Homo sapiens: one gene and its partners. The protein of the gene in region 3 interacts with the protein of the main gene of each other region in a biochemical or structural test. Each region holds a gene or a part of one and is shown on either strand. Other genes may lie near its edges.

Region 1 (3,500 bases), on a different chromosome or scaffold from region 3:
TGTAGGACAATTATAAAAGCTGTAATATACATGTAATAAAAAAAATCACAAGGTGTGATATACATGTAAAGAAACATACTGGAAGGAAGAAAGAAAGAAATAGAGAAAGAGAGAAAGAGAAAAAAAAGAAAAAAGAGAAAGAAAGGAAGAAAGAAAAAGCAAGGAAGGGAGGGAGGTAGCAAGGGAGGGAGGAATGAAGGGAGGGAGGGAGGGGAAAGAAAAAAATTAGAAAAAATATTTAAAGCAATAATTACTGAGAATTTCTTAAAATTAATAATAAACCTCAAACCACAGATATAGGAAGCCCAGAGAATGCCAAGAATAAATAAAAAAAAAAGTTACAACCTGACATGTTGTAACCAAATGACCCCAGTTTTTTAAGAAAACGGGAATGAAGTACTATTTTTTGTTTTCTGAGACGAATTACTATTTTTTAAAGCTTTCTCTTCTTTTCCCCTTTCCCCTTTTCCTCTTGCTCCTCATTTCCAACTTAGCCCTTCAGAAATGCAAATACAACGTTTCACCTCCTCCCCTCACCAGACATTCGCTATAGGAAAAATTCTCCTAACTACGTGCTTCAAGACACAGCTCTCCTCCAGAGCTGACAGTCAATTTGCAGACCAAATTGCCAGGGAACTTTCATCTCTAGGGCGTGGCCTCGGAACTTCCACTCTCCAGGAGTGGTCTTGGAACTTTCTTCCACCTGGAGAGCATATTGAAAACATGCCCTTTTTGGTCACTTTTTCAATCTACTTCTGTCCATGTAAGTGCTACCTCAACTGTGCAGTAGATAACTGCCCGGTAGCAAGGGGACCCCTGCCCTTGCTCATTTCCTCCCCTACCATATGAAAATGCTTACTTTTTTTTTTTTTTTTTTGCCACTTCAGCTCCAAAGGTGAAACGGCACAGTTAAAAGCAAGAAATTTTGTGTCCCTTCCCCAAGCTAGCTTTGGAATAAATCCACTTTTCTTGTACCAGACCCCACTCTTGTTAATTGGACTCTACATGTGGTAAGCAACTAACTTGATTTTCGGTTACAATATAATATTCAACTTCAGTAAATCAAAGACAATTTTGAAAGAAGCCAAAGGGAAAAAAATGACCTGAAGAGTCCTGTTTAAATTTAGAATTCTGAACACAAATCTCTGGCGACTAGACTGAAGCTTGACCTATTCCTACCCAGACCCATTCCCACCTCACTAGGTACTTTGAATGGATATATGTGGAAACTCTTGGCTTCCCCATTGTGCACCATTCATATCTTATGCAAATAGTGCCTCCTACCTCCCTTGGTCACTCCCCAGTTGAATGGATGTTGGGAAGAGCCCTGCTGGTCTTTTCCAATATAACCAATAGCCTTGGTTCTATTTAAGCAAGACATTCCAGGCATGATGATTAGAAGCAGAGCCATGGGCTCTACTGAGCCTACTGTCTTGGCACCTGCCCTATGAAGACAGCCTAGCTAGAGAGGGGCTAGAATGGGCTATCCACAGTGTGGAATCTAGGGCAAGCGCCCTCTGGCCTGGGCCTCAGGGCAGCGGTGACAGAAGCCATAAGTGATCTTGGCAATAGCTGTGTTTGATGCCACATACACTAGTCAGATGTGAGTTAAGGAGAGCGTGAGATGCTAGGAAATGTAGGCAATGGGTACAGACAGATTATGCAATGATTTCAATGGTCAAAGGGAGGTTACTTGAGACAGAAGACAGGGAAAGGGAATCATTTTAGAGATTTGAGAAGAGTTAAGAAGTTTGAAATAGTCTTTAGGAGACAAATATAGCAGGATGGCCAGGCCATTTTTTTTTTTTTTTTGAGACGGAGTTTCACTCTTGTTGCCTAGGCTGGAGTGCAATGGCACGATCTTGGCTCACTGCAAACTCTGCCTCCCGGATTCAAGTGATTCTCCTGCCTCAGCCTTCCGAGTAGCTGGGATTATAGGTGCCTGCCACCACGCCCAGCTAATTTTTTGTATTTTTAGTAGAGATGGGGTTTCACCATGTTGGCCAGGCTGGTCCCGAACTCCTGACTTTAGGTTATCCACCCACCTCAGCAACCCAAAGTGCTGGGATTACAGGCGTGAGCCACTGTGCCCAGCTGGCCAGGCCATTTTAAGTGCAAATGTAAGTCTGTGACTCAATTTACTCTACTTGGTAATCTCCAGCAATTATCAGCTGCTTAAATACAGTTATTGTCGTATTCTTTAAAACAGTATCTATTCAGATTTGTTCAACTTTATTGGCAAGAATATTCCAATGGAATTTTAAAACAATCTTGGTTTTAGTTTTCCCTCTGCCACTAACGAACAGGTCGTTTGACATACGTGGACATCATGTAATTTATAGTAAAAAGGTTGTGGGAGGCAGATACCTAAATTCCTAAACAGCTGTCATCTAATCCCTTTTCCTCAATTCTTAGTGATAAGGAAAAAACATGTGAGGGACTTCACAGTAAAGCTATTATCATAGTACAATGTGTAGTTGTGTAACACCTTCGTTTGAGTTTCATGAAACCACCCATGATAACTGTAAGTGGCATACATTGCTGTACATGATCTTATCATAGAAATACAACATAAATATTAGATGTCATTCAACCCTTGATCAACAATGTTGGGCAGCATTAGTTATTCAAAAGTTTTCCTTATATGGAGCTGAAACCTCACCCCTGCTCCCCTGCTCCGCCGTAATTTCTGTATATTTGGGTTAGTTTTGTAATTCAAAACAGGTCTGCATTTTATTTATATAAAGTCCTACAAGGTATGTTCTCTCAAGTTTTCTCTTCTTCAGGCTAGACATTCTCAGTTTTTTCAGCCCCTTTCCTGATAAGGGGCTTACGTTCCATCACTATGCTGACCATTGTCTACTACTGAAGACTAACTAACACAGTCATTAACAGCAATGGAATTTTGAGGATGGAAGACATGTTTTCAGATTATGCCTCTGCCATCTGCTCACTGTATATATTGGATGTCTTCTGTTTGTCCCCCTAGATGTACTCCTCATCCTTCTTCACCTTACTTTGGCTACAGATGGCTGATGTGAATGAACATCAGTAGGCCCCCATGTCCTCTGCTTCCACCTGGATTTGGCCAACAGAAATTCCCGGCAGAGATGAGAGGGAGAGAATTGAGTGAGATCAAGGTGTCTTTTCAAACCCTGGTTAGCTCTGTCTTATGATTGCCTCAATCTATGTGTCCTTTTATGAAAAATCATGAGTTCTTTGAAGGCATCCTGCTCTATAGGGCTCTCCTAATGGATTCTGATAACTACTTCCTTGCTTGATGCCTTTGGACCTGGGGATGCTAGATATTCCGAGCTCCTGTATCGCTAGCCCCAGGTAACTGGACTATTCCTAGAATTTCACCGGATCTCATACCTACCTTTTTAAGTGATCACTTTGTAAATAAATTCTTCCAATTTTGCCTTAAGTATATGACTTTGATCAAGTTACCTAAGCCTTTTGAAGTTTCCTCACGTATCAAATGGACATAATAGAACCTA
Region 2 (4,139 bases), on a different chromosome or scaffold from region 3:
CCTAATTTATTCAATCATTCTCTACTTTAAAAAAAAAATGCTAGTAGAAATGATTCTGAAATAAGCACCTTTGTCCAATATTTTATTGACTTATTTAACACTATTTAGTGTAATTAGAAATAATAACTGTGTTTTTCTGAAAGTGTTTAATTTGTTCTTTCCCCCAAATGGACAATTAGTCCAAATGCACAAGAGGAGGCATATATGAAGAACCTAGGAACACACAGAAAGGAACAGCAAACACTGGGATCTACTTCCGGCTGGAGGGTGGGAGGAGGGAGAGGAGCAGCAAACAAACACTGGGAAGTGGGCTTAATACCTGGGTGATGAAATAATCTGTACAACAAACCCCCGTGGCACGAGTTTACCTATGTAACAAACCTTCACATATACCCTGAACCTAAAATAAAAGTTAAAAAAAAAAAAAAAGCCAGGTGCGGTGGCTCATGCCTGTAAGCCCAGCACTTTGGGAGGCCAAGGCAGGCGGATCACTAGAGGTCAGGAGTTCTAGACCAGCCTGGCCAACATGGTGAAACCTCATCTCTACTAAAAACACACAAAAAAAGGCTGGGTACGGTGGCTCACGCCTGTAATCCCAGCACTTTGGGAGGCCGAGGCGGGCAGATCATGAAGTCAGGAGATCCAGGCCATCCTGGCTAACACGGTGAAACCCCGTCTCTACTAAAAATACAAAAAAAAAATTAGCCAGGCATGGTGGCAGGCACCTGTGGTCCCAGCTACTCAGGAGGCTGAGACAGGAGAATGGCGTGAACCCGGGAGGCAGAGCTTGCAGTGAGCTGAGATTGCGCCACCGCACTCCAGCCTGGGCGACAAAGCGAGACTCCACCTCAAAAAAAAAAAAAAAAAAAAAAAAAAGCTGGGTGTGGCGGCACGTGCCTATAATCCCGGCTACTTGGGAAGCTAAGGCAGGAGAATAGCTTGAGCCCAGGAAGCCGAGGTTGCAGTGAGCTGAGATTGCGCCACTGCACTCCAGCCTGGGCAACAAAGGAAGACCCTGTCTCAAAAAAAAAAGAGGCATACATGGAAAAATGACACAGAAAAAGCATCCTAGATCCAGGTCACAGCCTCACTGGGTCTCTGAAAGTCCTCATTTCTGCGGACCAATGTCAGGCAATGTTTTTTCTCTCTCCTTGGTGCAACTAGGGAGCTTTCGGCTTGGGGCTTGGTGGGTGCAAAGACGAAATTCGTGCTGTGTATGATTTGTGCACTGGCAACGTGTGTCTTATCAACATTTCCAAGGAGAATTTGCTCCTGGGGAAAGTCAGCAGGGTCCAGAGAGCAAAAGGATCATAAAGCCAGGTAGGCCCAGGGGAGAAACAGCCGGTCTTTAGGTGGCTGGCGCAGAGCAGGTGTCACTTGGGAGGTAGAGCACACCTGTTCTCCCACCTGAACAAGGATGGAGAACAAAGAGGCGGGAACCCCTCCACCCATTCCATCCAGGGAGGGGGTAAGTGCCAAGACTAGGAACCTGTCACTGTCCCTCTCCCACCAGCTGTGCAGACCTGTGGAGGGAGGTGAAGGCCGTGGAATGCTTTTAGCAAGGAGCGGGTAGCGTGCTTCCTTTTTCTTCAGGATAACCAGGCCTGGGAGAGCCATGTGGAGAAGCAGCTATGCTCAAACCTCATGGCTCAGACATGGGCCAGGGTGGCTGAGCGAATGCTGGGAGAGCGGATGGTGCTGGAGATGCCTCTCTCCCTTCCACCCCTGCTCCCCTCCGCTTCCCCTACCCTTAAAGATCGAGGGGAGATGGCCTCTGAAGAATGCCCGAATCCTGCCCTTCTGTCTGGTTGTTCCTGGATGTGCAGAGCTACGGGCTGTGGGCAGCCAGGCAGCTAAGTGTGAGGGTTGGGGTGAGGACATGTGGAACAGGAGTGAGGGGTGGAGGGGGCAGTGGGGAGGGGGCATGCACCAGGGCCTTGGCTCTAGGACATGGTCAGAGACCCTGCCCACCTGCTCCTCAGACTTTGGCCCTCAGGCCAGTTCCCCTCCAAGCTGCCCTGGGTGTTGTGGCAACCATGGAAAGCCTGGCCCTGAGCACAGGCGACTGCCGGGATTTTCCTAAGGGCCTGTTCTAGAGGCAGAGGCAAGCAATGAGTCCCTCTGTCTGGGATGCTCTTCCCCCCGATGCTTACACAGCTGCTCCCTCTCATCCATTCTGGTCCCGGCTCAAAGGGCGCCTGCTCAGAGAGGCCTTCCCTGCCCTGCCCACCCTACTGAACACAGTCTCTCATTCCTCACAGGCTGCTACCCCACCCATCACCCTATTTTATTGTCCTCACAGCATTCTAGCTATTTGGAATTATCATCTTTGTCTTTCTTGGACGGGGTGGGCTCCCCTCACTAGAAAGTGAGCTTCTTAAAGGCAGTGCTTTGCTGGGCCTTTTTCCTAAAGCATCCCCTACTTCACACTTGGCCTCCAGGGCCTAGTACAGGGCCAGGCACGTAGCAGATGCTCAGATACATCCTCAAGGAGGGAATGAATGCGTGCAGAGACCTCAGCCCCCAAAAGCCCCAGCCCTGCGCCACCTCCTCCTCTTTTCCGGGGGCACGGCCTGGGATCCCCCATCCCCCACTTCCAGCCCAGGCTGGAGGGAGGTGGAGGCCCAGCCACTCCACTTCCCGAGGCCCAAGCCCACAGCGTCCCGACCTTGGACTTGTCTCCTACAGCGGCTCCAGCCGACGCTGTTGCTGGCGACACTGAGCGCGGCCTTTGGCTCAGCCTTCCAGTACGGCTACAACCTCTCTGTGGTCAACACGCCGCACAAGGTGGGCACAAGGTGGGCACAAGGTGGGCCGGGCAGCAGCTGACCGGGGTCGTGGGTGGAAGGTAGCCGCCATCTTCCTCCGTGGAGGCTGCCATCTTGCCTGTAGGAGGCACCATCTTGCCTTTGGGAGCAGCCAGCTTGCCCTAGTACCCTGGATGCTCACCCCTGGAGACCAGGGCGTGGCAGGAGGTGTTTCCCCCTGGAGTGTCGTCCTTTCCGGGCACATTGGGATGCTGGGGGACCTGTTCCATTTTCCAGCCCAGTCTTTTTGGGCCTCAGGTCCCACTGCTCTCACCTTGGGTAGGCCCCTTGTTGATTGGAAAGAGAATGGGGTCAAAGATTGAACTCTGTGGCATTTAGGGATTGGGGCAAAGGGGAAAAAAGGAAAAAGAGAAGGGGCCCTTGCAGGTGTGGAAGACCCTGAGGGCAGAATGTCCCCAAAACCTAGTAAAGGATGAGAGTCAAGGAGGGAGGGACAGCCTGTGCTGATGAGCTCAGATGAGGACTGAGAACTGACTACAGGCTTGACCTTGGTATACGTCTATGCTTACGCTTGTATACATATATTAGCATGTCTACAGACACTGTATTACATTTGTTTGTGTATTACGTATATATACATATATTAGTGTACTTACAATTATTACCATGGATGGAACCTCCGAGTCAAGCAATGTACCATCACTTAATCACATTTAATGCTAACACATTCTTTATAAGGTACATCTTGTTTCCATAACTGATGAGGAAATTAAGGTTTCTGGAGGTTCTGTAACTTGCCTGAAGTCACACAATTAGTAAAAATATTTCCTGGGCTGGGAGCGGTGGCTCACGCCTGCAATCCCAGCACTTTGGGAGGCTGAGGTGGGTGGATCACCTGATCACCTGAAATCAGGAGTTCAAGACCAGCCTGGCCAACATGGTGAAACCTCATCTCTACTAAAAATCCAAAAATTAGCCAGGCATGGTGGCGGGTATCTGTAATTCCAGCTACTCGGGAGGCTGAGACAGGAGAATCACTTGAACCCGGGAATCAGAGGTTGCAGTGAGCCAAGATCATGCCACTGCACTCCAGCCTGGGTGACAGAGTGAGACTTCATCTCAAAAAAAAAAAAAAAAAAAAAAAAAAAAAAAAAAAGAAGAAGAATATTTCCTATGGTGCCTCTGGCAGAGTAAGTCGTAAGTCTCTCAAAAGTAAAATTTTTTTTTTCTTTTCTTTTCTCTTCTTTTTTAATAGAGACAGGGTCTCCCTATGTTGGCCAGGTTGCTCTTGAACCCTTGGCCTCAAGCAATCCTCCCGCCTCGGCCTCCCAAAGTGCCAGGATTACAGGTGTGAGCCATTCCCAGCCAAAA
Region 3 (3,500 bases):
ACCATCTTGGCCAGGCTGGTCTTGAACTCCTGACCTTGTGATCCACCCACCTCGGCCTCCCAAAGTGCTGGGATTACAGGCATGAGCCACCACGCCTGGCCCTGCTGGGTCTTTTTTAGACACTGAGAAATACAGCAGTGAACAAGAGAGACAAGCTTCTTGTTTTCATGGAACTTCTATTCTCATGGGAGGGGAAACAGACAATAAAGAAGAAACAGGGCCCGTTGCGGTGGCTCACGCCTACAATCCTAGCACTTCGGGAGGCCAAGGCGGCAGGCAGATTGCCTGAGCTCAAGAGACCAGCCTGGGCAACATGGCGAAACCCCACCTGTACTAAAATACAAAAAATTAGCCAGGCATGGTGGTACATGCCTATAATGCCAGCTACTCGGGAGGCTAAGCATCAGAATTGCTTGAACCCGGGAGGCAAAGGTTGCAGTGAGCCGAGATCGCACCACTGCACTCCAGCCTGGGCAACAGAGCGAAACTCCATCTCAAAAAAAAAAAAAAAAAAAACAACAACAACAACAACAGAAGATAATACGAGATTGTGTCAAGGCTATGAAGGAACAAACAGGGTGAGGGAATGGCACTTTACTCAGGGAGCTATCTTTTGTGTGTGTGTGTGAGATGGGGGTCTCACTCTGTCACCCAGGCTGGAGTGCAGTGGTACAATCTTGGCTCACTGCAACCTCTGCCTCCTGGTCTCAAGCGATTCTCCCACTCTGCCTCCCGAGTAGCTGGGACTACAGAAGTTCGCCACCACGCCCAGCTAGTTTATGTATTTTTTGGTAGAGACTTCACCATGTTGCCCAGGCTGGTCTTAAACTCCTGAGCTCAAGTGATCCACCCACCTTGGCCTCCCAAGGTGCTGGGATTACAGGTGAGCCACCACAAGGGCACTATCTTATATGCAGTCAGTGGTGTGTGGGGGCCAGCTCACATTGGCTTGGGAACAGCAAGTATACGCGTCTCTTCCCAACTCCAGCTATGCTATAAATCAGGGTCTACCCACTACTAGCACTGGTTGTTAAGCATTTTACAGCACACCAGAAGGAGGTCACTGAGGAGAAAGAAGCAAGACCAGAGATTCATGAGAAACCAAACAACTCTGAAAGACAAGGCCCTGTGTTTTAAAATGAGAGTTATTGTCATACATTCCAATGAATCAAAACAATACCAAAACAAAAAACCACACAAAGAACTATATTCAACCATATGTGATCACAATTTCCCTCATTACAGTGAGGGGAAGGGTCTGGTGGTGGTTTGGTTTGGCTTTTAAATTGTATCTCTTTTATTATCTCCACACTGCCACACATACACAAAAAGTAGAGGGATAGTTACAGTTCCTGGGTAATTTGAAAAACCACAAAATTCACCTGCAAAAATATGTAAGCATGACCTGTAATACACCACTTTGGGAAACTACAATCATACCATTTTAAACCTTTGGAGTCTGGGTGATTCATGGAAACAAAGGATTTCACGAGCACAAATAACCTGAAGAGGCTCACCCACTTATTTTTGGCATAGAGAAATGTAGGCTCCAAGAATGTGACTGGCAGAGCTTATTCTAGAACCCAGGTCACCTGTCTCATCTGATGTCATCTTCTCAATTTTGGTCTATACCCTAGTACAGTAGTTCTTAAAACTGAACCCTTGAATCCCTTAATAAGCCCATCAGAATCCCTTGAGGGTTTATTAAAACACCCCATGGTTGTTACCCCACCCCCCAACCCCAACCCCATCCCCCGCAAAGCTTCTGAATTGGTAGAACTAAGGTGGGGCCCAGGAATCTGGATTTCTAACCAGTTCCCAGGTTACTATACTAATGCCACTGGTCTGAGGACCTCACTTGGAGACCTACTGTCCCAGGAATTGGGAGCACAGGCTTTGGAATCAGACAGAGCTGGGTTGCAGCTCTACTGCCACTGTGGTATGACCCTTGGAAAAGTTACCCAAATTCTCTGAACCTCAGCTTCTAACATCTGAGTCCAATTGTAAGGACTGAAAAAGAGAATGCCCACGAAGCATCAGCTTAGCCAAGCACCTATTATATTCTAAGGCAAGATCTTAATACATACTAGCGACATCTTATATCCTGTATCAAAGTTTCCTTAATTACATTTTTCCGAAGCATATACTAGGACGGCTAAAATTCAAAAGACAAACAAAATCAAAGATGGCCAAAGATGTAGAGCAACTGAAACATTAATAACAGCTTTATTCGTAATAGTAAAAAATGGTAAATACTCCAAATGTCCATAAACAAGCAAAAGGACAAACTGGTATGTGTATACAATGGAATATTACTTAGCAATAAAAAAAGAACCAAATGAAGTACACATGCAACAAAACGAAATCTCCAAAATATTTTGTTGAGTAACAAAAGCCAAACACAAAAGAGTACATACTGCATTAGTTCATTTTTATGAAGTTGAAGACAAAATTATTCTATGGTAGATCTATGGTGCAGGGGGAGGGGGGAATTAACTGGACAGGAACATGAGAAAAATTTCTGGGGTGATGAAAATGTTCTCTATCTTCATTTGAGTGATTAACATGAGTGCATACATCGCTTAAAACTCATCAAATTATATATCTAAGATATGCATTTTACTATAGGTAAATGATACCTGAATACACATAATTATATATAACTTTGTAAAGGCATTTTATGACAAAGTACTGTCTTCCCCACTTAAAATGAACCAACTCCAACCTGACAAAGGACTGTCTTCTCCATTTAAAATGAACCAAGTCCAACCTGGCAGATCCATTGAGTTTGATTCCTGCACAATCCAGTCCTGTCACAGACAGTTTTGGTCCATGTATCTTTCCAGAGAACTGCCATGAAGTAGAAAAACAGAATTTTCTCCCACCATGTAGACAGTATCCAGAGTGATCTGTGTCCCTGGAAGTGGCTAACTTGGGATGCAAACAACACAAAAGTAGTATTTTTCTTTACCATATACCAAGTATGAGCCTGCTTGATATGACTTTAAAAGGCACAGTAATGAAGACACATTAAGAGCAATTCTGTCATACAATCTAAATCATATTCTCAACATGGAAGAGGGAGCAGAAAACTGGTGAAATGGTTTCTAGGGCCATCATTACTGGTAATGAAGACGTCAGAAGATCCAACTGTGCCTGTGTAATTATTACATGAAATAGTCACTTTCAGACTGCAATGAATTCCAGGCCATTCAGGTTTCCCAATCAGTATCATATTTCTATCCCATTACAAGTAGATTCACGTACATCCATCCATACATACATATACACACACACACAGAAACATACCCACACACTCGCCCCTGCTGTGAACAATCTGTGCACAAGGGGTGAAGAGAGCTAACACCTGGAGACACTACAGTTTCCTTTCAACTCAGAGGTGTCTGTTTCCAAACCCACTTGATTATCTCACCAAGCCTTCCTAAACTCCATGATGAGAGAGCCCTGGGACATCGCCTCCCAGAAATTTGGCAACTAGT
Region 4 (3,500 bases), on a different chromosome or scaffold from region 3:
TTCTTATCCACAACACTGAGTGCTAAAGAGGTTCCAAGGAAAAAATTATTTGGAATACCACATTTAGCCATTTTATCATTCAAGTGAAAATGAAAAGTACACTTTTAGACATGCAAAGACTCAAAAGTTTATGTCACAATTTATTTGAAAGAAATTACTAAAGATTATTTACCAATGGTTAAAATGGTAAAATTTATGTTATGTGTGTTATACCACCAAAAAAAATTGTAAAAAAACAAAAAAGTAGAACAAATGAGAAGGAATGGGATATAAGAAAAATTTGTGACAACATAAGCTTAATTCTAAATAATTTTTAGAAAGTTGTTAAGAGTATAAGAGCTTAGACTTTCACAAACCAGTTTTTCCCTACTTTCTAGCCTCTTTTATTGTGAAATATAACACACATACAATTACATAAAGAAAAATATAAGATTAATAAATTCCTATAAACACACACTCTGGACCTGCACAAAGCCTAGAAGTGGAGCATTGCCTCTCTTGTTTCATTTCCTAATCAGCACCCCTAAACTTCCCCCAGCAACATCCTCTAGCTGACATTTTTGAGAATACACTTTTGCCTTACTCTATAGTTTTACCACCTAAATACGCATTTCTAAACAATACAGTGCCGTTTTGACTATTTTTTAACTTTATACCTAAATGTAGTCAAACAGTATGTAATCTTTCATGTCTAGCTTCTTTCATTGAACAATAATGTTTGTCGAGAGACAAGCATGACTATTGAGGCAGGAGAAGGTGCGCATTGTCTCATTCCCCACAAGTCTTCAACTCTTGTATTCAACTCTCCTGGGCAGCTGGCTCCTAGTTTTGAAATGTTTTGCTATGCACAAAGGCCATTTTATGCCTGCAACCACCACACTGCCACCCACTTGATCAGGTACAACACCCCCATTCCTTACCACAATCCCTAAAAAAGGATATCAACAGGGAGCTCAACTCATAATACATCCAACCATGTCCATCCCAGGCATACCTCTCCACTTCATGCCAAGAGCCTGAAGGAACAAATGAACACAACAGCTGCAGCTGGGATTCCAGCCTGCATTGTGTTACTGTTTTGCCTTAGCTCTTCAAGTAACAGTGGTGCCCACTATGGACCAAATACATATTTGACTGGACCACTGAGAGTGATGAAAGGCCTAGAAAGTCAGTAAGTCTCTACGTGCATTGCCTTATGCAGTGGCTACCTCTAAATGGGAAGATGACTCATCTGAGCAAGAAGGACTAGTATCAACTGGGTGACCATGTTGTCCAAGGGCCATACACTTACAGGCTTCAACATACTAGATTTACCACCAACAGGGATCTCAGAATTATGAAGTTACTGTGATAGAAGTTATTAAGAAATTATTTTAGGCAGATAGAGAAAAAAGGAGTCCTTGGAAAGTTTTCATTTCTTTTTAAAACACCTCCAAAAGTGTTTCTTGTCTAACAGAAAAGTCCCAGCTCTTAGAGCCAAGCCGGCAACCTTTAGTATGCATATGCAAGCCATTAGAAACTGGGTCCACTCAACATGGCGATTCCCACCTTTGTCCTCTTGCCCTTGCCCCACATGTATTTGGGAATATGGCCGCCCCACATATCCCCATGTGTGTAGAACATCATGGTGCCCTGCATTTGCATATTAAAAGGCTAGGGTGGGAAGGCCAGTTTTTTTCCGAGGGCTACCTGAATGAAAGCCTGGTCAAACCAATCCCCTAAGCTCTATGCAAATCAGACACCCCCTCCTCCAGCCTCTACATATACCTGCCTGGTACGCACCACACTTGGGGTTTCCTCTTTCGGCTGTGGAGCCCCCATCCCTCTGTCTCTGTAAGAGCGAACCTTCTGCCTTTTCTTTTCTTTCTTGCCTATTAAACTCTCTGCTCCTTAAAACCACTCCACGTGTGTCCGTATTGTTTAATCTAATTCAACGTGAGACAAGAGCCCTGGTGTTCCTCCACTCATGGGAGCCATATCATTACTATAATTGCTAACTAGAATGGGTTGCCTCTCAGAGGAAAAACAAGAAAGCTCAAAGGAGGGAAGGAAGAGTGGACGGGCAGAAAATAAATATTGCTGCTGGGATAGTTGTTTGTATTTTCATCAGTCAGGCTGCCAGTGGCTGCTCCTATGGAGGGACTGCAAGAAAGTCAATGATCTAATAAGAAAGTCCTGAAGATACTTATGAACGTTATAGAAACAAGCTGTGTTATGGCCTACACTCCTAGGAAAACTCCAAGTGGCTGTTTCCTGGAGAGAAAGGGTCAGAGGGAAACCAGTGGACTGATGCAAAAACCTAAAATGGACCTTTGACCTTTAAAAGTTTCAAATATGACAAATGAAGAGAGATGATGATAGTGGAGAACTTAGGGCTGTTAGGAGAAAGGAATTAGAATCGGGATAAAGATCCCCTGGAGAGAATTCCTGTATAGAGAGGGAAACTGTTGCTTTCCCTATCTCATTGAATACATTTCAACCACAACATATTCCTGAGTTTAATAGATACACCAGACTCCAAGTGGCTGTTATTTTGTCTCCTTTGACTGAACTGTAACTACAGTTTCTTTGGAACCTGGATCAAACACACCAACATGTTAATTAGATTCACTCATTTCAAATCCTGTTTACTGCAGGTTAAAGTATTGGAAGAAAAAAAAATCCAAGGAGTCTTGCTCCTTTTTTCTTTGTGAGCTTCCTGGACACTCAGATGTTGAGAAGAAGGGAACTGAAAAAGAAGCAAAAGAACTTCTGATTTTATTTGTCTGTTTGGACTTTACCAAATAACTGATATTTTGCTTTGTTCAAATCAAAGCATCCTCAACGGACATAAACTTGGATACCGGCCGGGCGCGGTGGCTCACGCTTGTAATCCCAGAACTTTGGGAGGCCGAGCTGGGTGGATCATGAGGTCAGGAGTTCGAGATCAGCCTGGCCAACAGTGAAACCCCATCTCTAAAAAAAGTACAAAAATTAGCTGGGCATGGTGGCACATGCCTGTAGTCCCAGCTACTTGGGAGGCTAAGGCAAGAGAATCACTTGAACCAGGGAGGTGGAGGTTGCAGTGAGCTGAAATTAGGCCACTGCACTCCAGCCTGGGCCACAGAGTGAGACTCCATCTCAAAAAAAAAAAAAAAAAAAAACCTGCATACCAACTTTATCTCAGGTGATTCTGCAGCTTTCTATGGTGGTAGAATGGTAACTACTGGGCCCCTGAAAAGTATATTATTCAAAAAAAAAAGGACATAAAGTCTGGATTAATTACAAGAGGGACAGATACCAATGAGTGGGATATGAATGAATGCAACCAACATTGAGAAACAGGTCATGAGAGCAGCAGGAGTAAGTAAAACTTTCTACTTTTTTGTTCCAAATCTGAACATACCAATTAATTCAGGTGAAAAGGCATATTTTTGATGAGCGTCAGTGTCAAAGAGTGGATTGCAGAAAGATAAACCATATTCTCTGCTATGAAGAAGCTAGCTAAGATTGGCACTTTT

The links. Proteins that work in one complex are often made in the same cells at the same time.
Region 1: the proteins of MAGI1 (region 3) and SLC17A1 interact in a test that uses a peptide from one of them, tested with the Homo sapiens proteins (one large-scale study listed by IntAct).
Region 2: the proteins of MAGI1 (region 3) and SLC2A7 interact in a test that uses a peptide from one of them, tested with the Homo sapiens proteins (one large-scale study listed by IntAct).
Region 4: the proteins of MAGI1 (region 3) and ATRNL1 interact in a test that uses a peptide from one of them, tested with the Homo sapiens proteins (one large-scale study listed by IntAct).

The regions. Positions count from the first base shown.
Region 1 is NC_000006.12:25,815,053-25,818,552, forward strand, and holds part of SLC17A1 (sodium-dependent phosphate transport protein 1), read right to left. Parts: intron 1-3,500. UniProt on the Homo sapiens protein: Important for the resorption of phosphate by the kidney. May be involved in actively transporting phosphate into cells via Na(+) cotransport in the renal brush border membrane. Plays a role in urate transport in the kidney.
Region 2 is NC_000001.11:9,023,624-9,027,762, reverse strand, and holds the start of SLC2A7 (solute carrier family 2, facilitated glucose transporter member 7), read left to right. Parts: upstream 1-1,339; 5' UTR 1,340-1,417; coding exon 1,418-1,468; intron 1,469-2,688; coding exon 2,689-2,787; intron 2,788-4,139. UniProt on the Homo sapiens protein: Probable sugar transporter. Even if its physiological substrate is subject to discussion, it is able to transport glucose and fructose. Does not transport galactose, 2-deoxy-d-glucose and xylose.
Region 3 is NC_000003.12:66,032,419-66,035,918, forward strand, and holds part of MAGI1 (membrane-associated guanylate kinase, WW and PDZ domain-containing protein 1), read right to left. Parts: intron 1-3,500. UniProt on the Homo sapiens protein: Plays a role in coupling actin fibers to cell junctions in endothelial cells, via its interaction with AMOTL2 and CDH5. May regulate acid-induced ASIC3 currents by modulating its expression at the cell surface.
Region 4 is NC_000010.11:115,302,865-115,306,364, reverse strand, and holds part of ATRNL1 (attractin-like protein 1 isoform 1 precursor), read right to left. Parts: intron 1-3,500. UniProt on the Homo sapiens protein: May play a role in melanocortin signaling pathways that regulate energy homeostasis.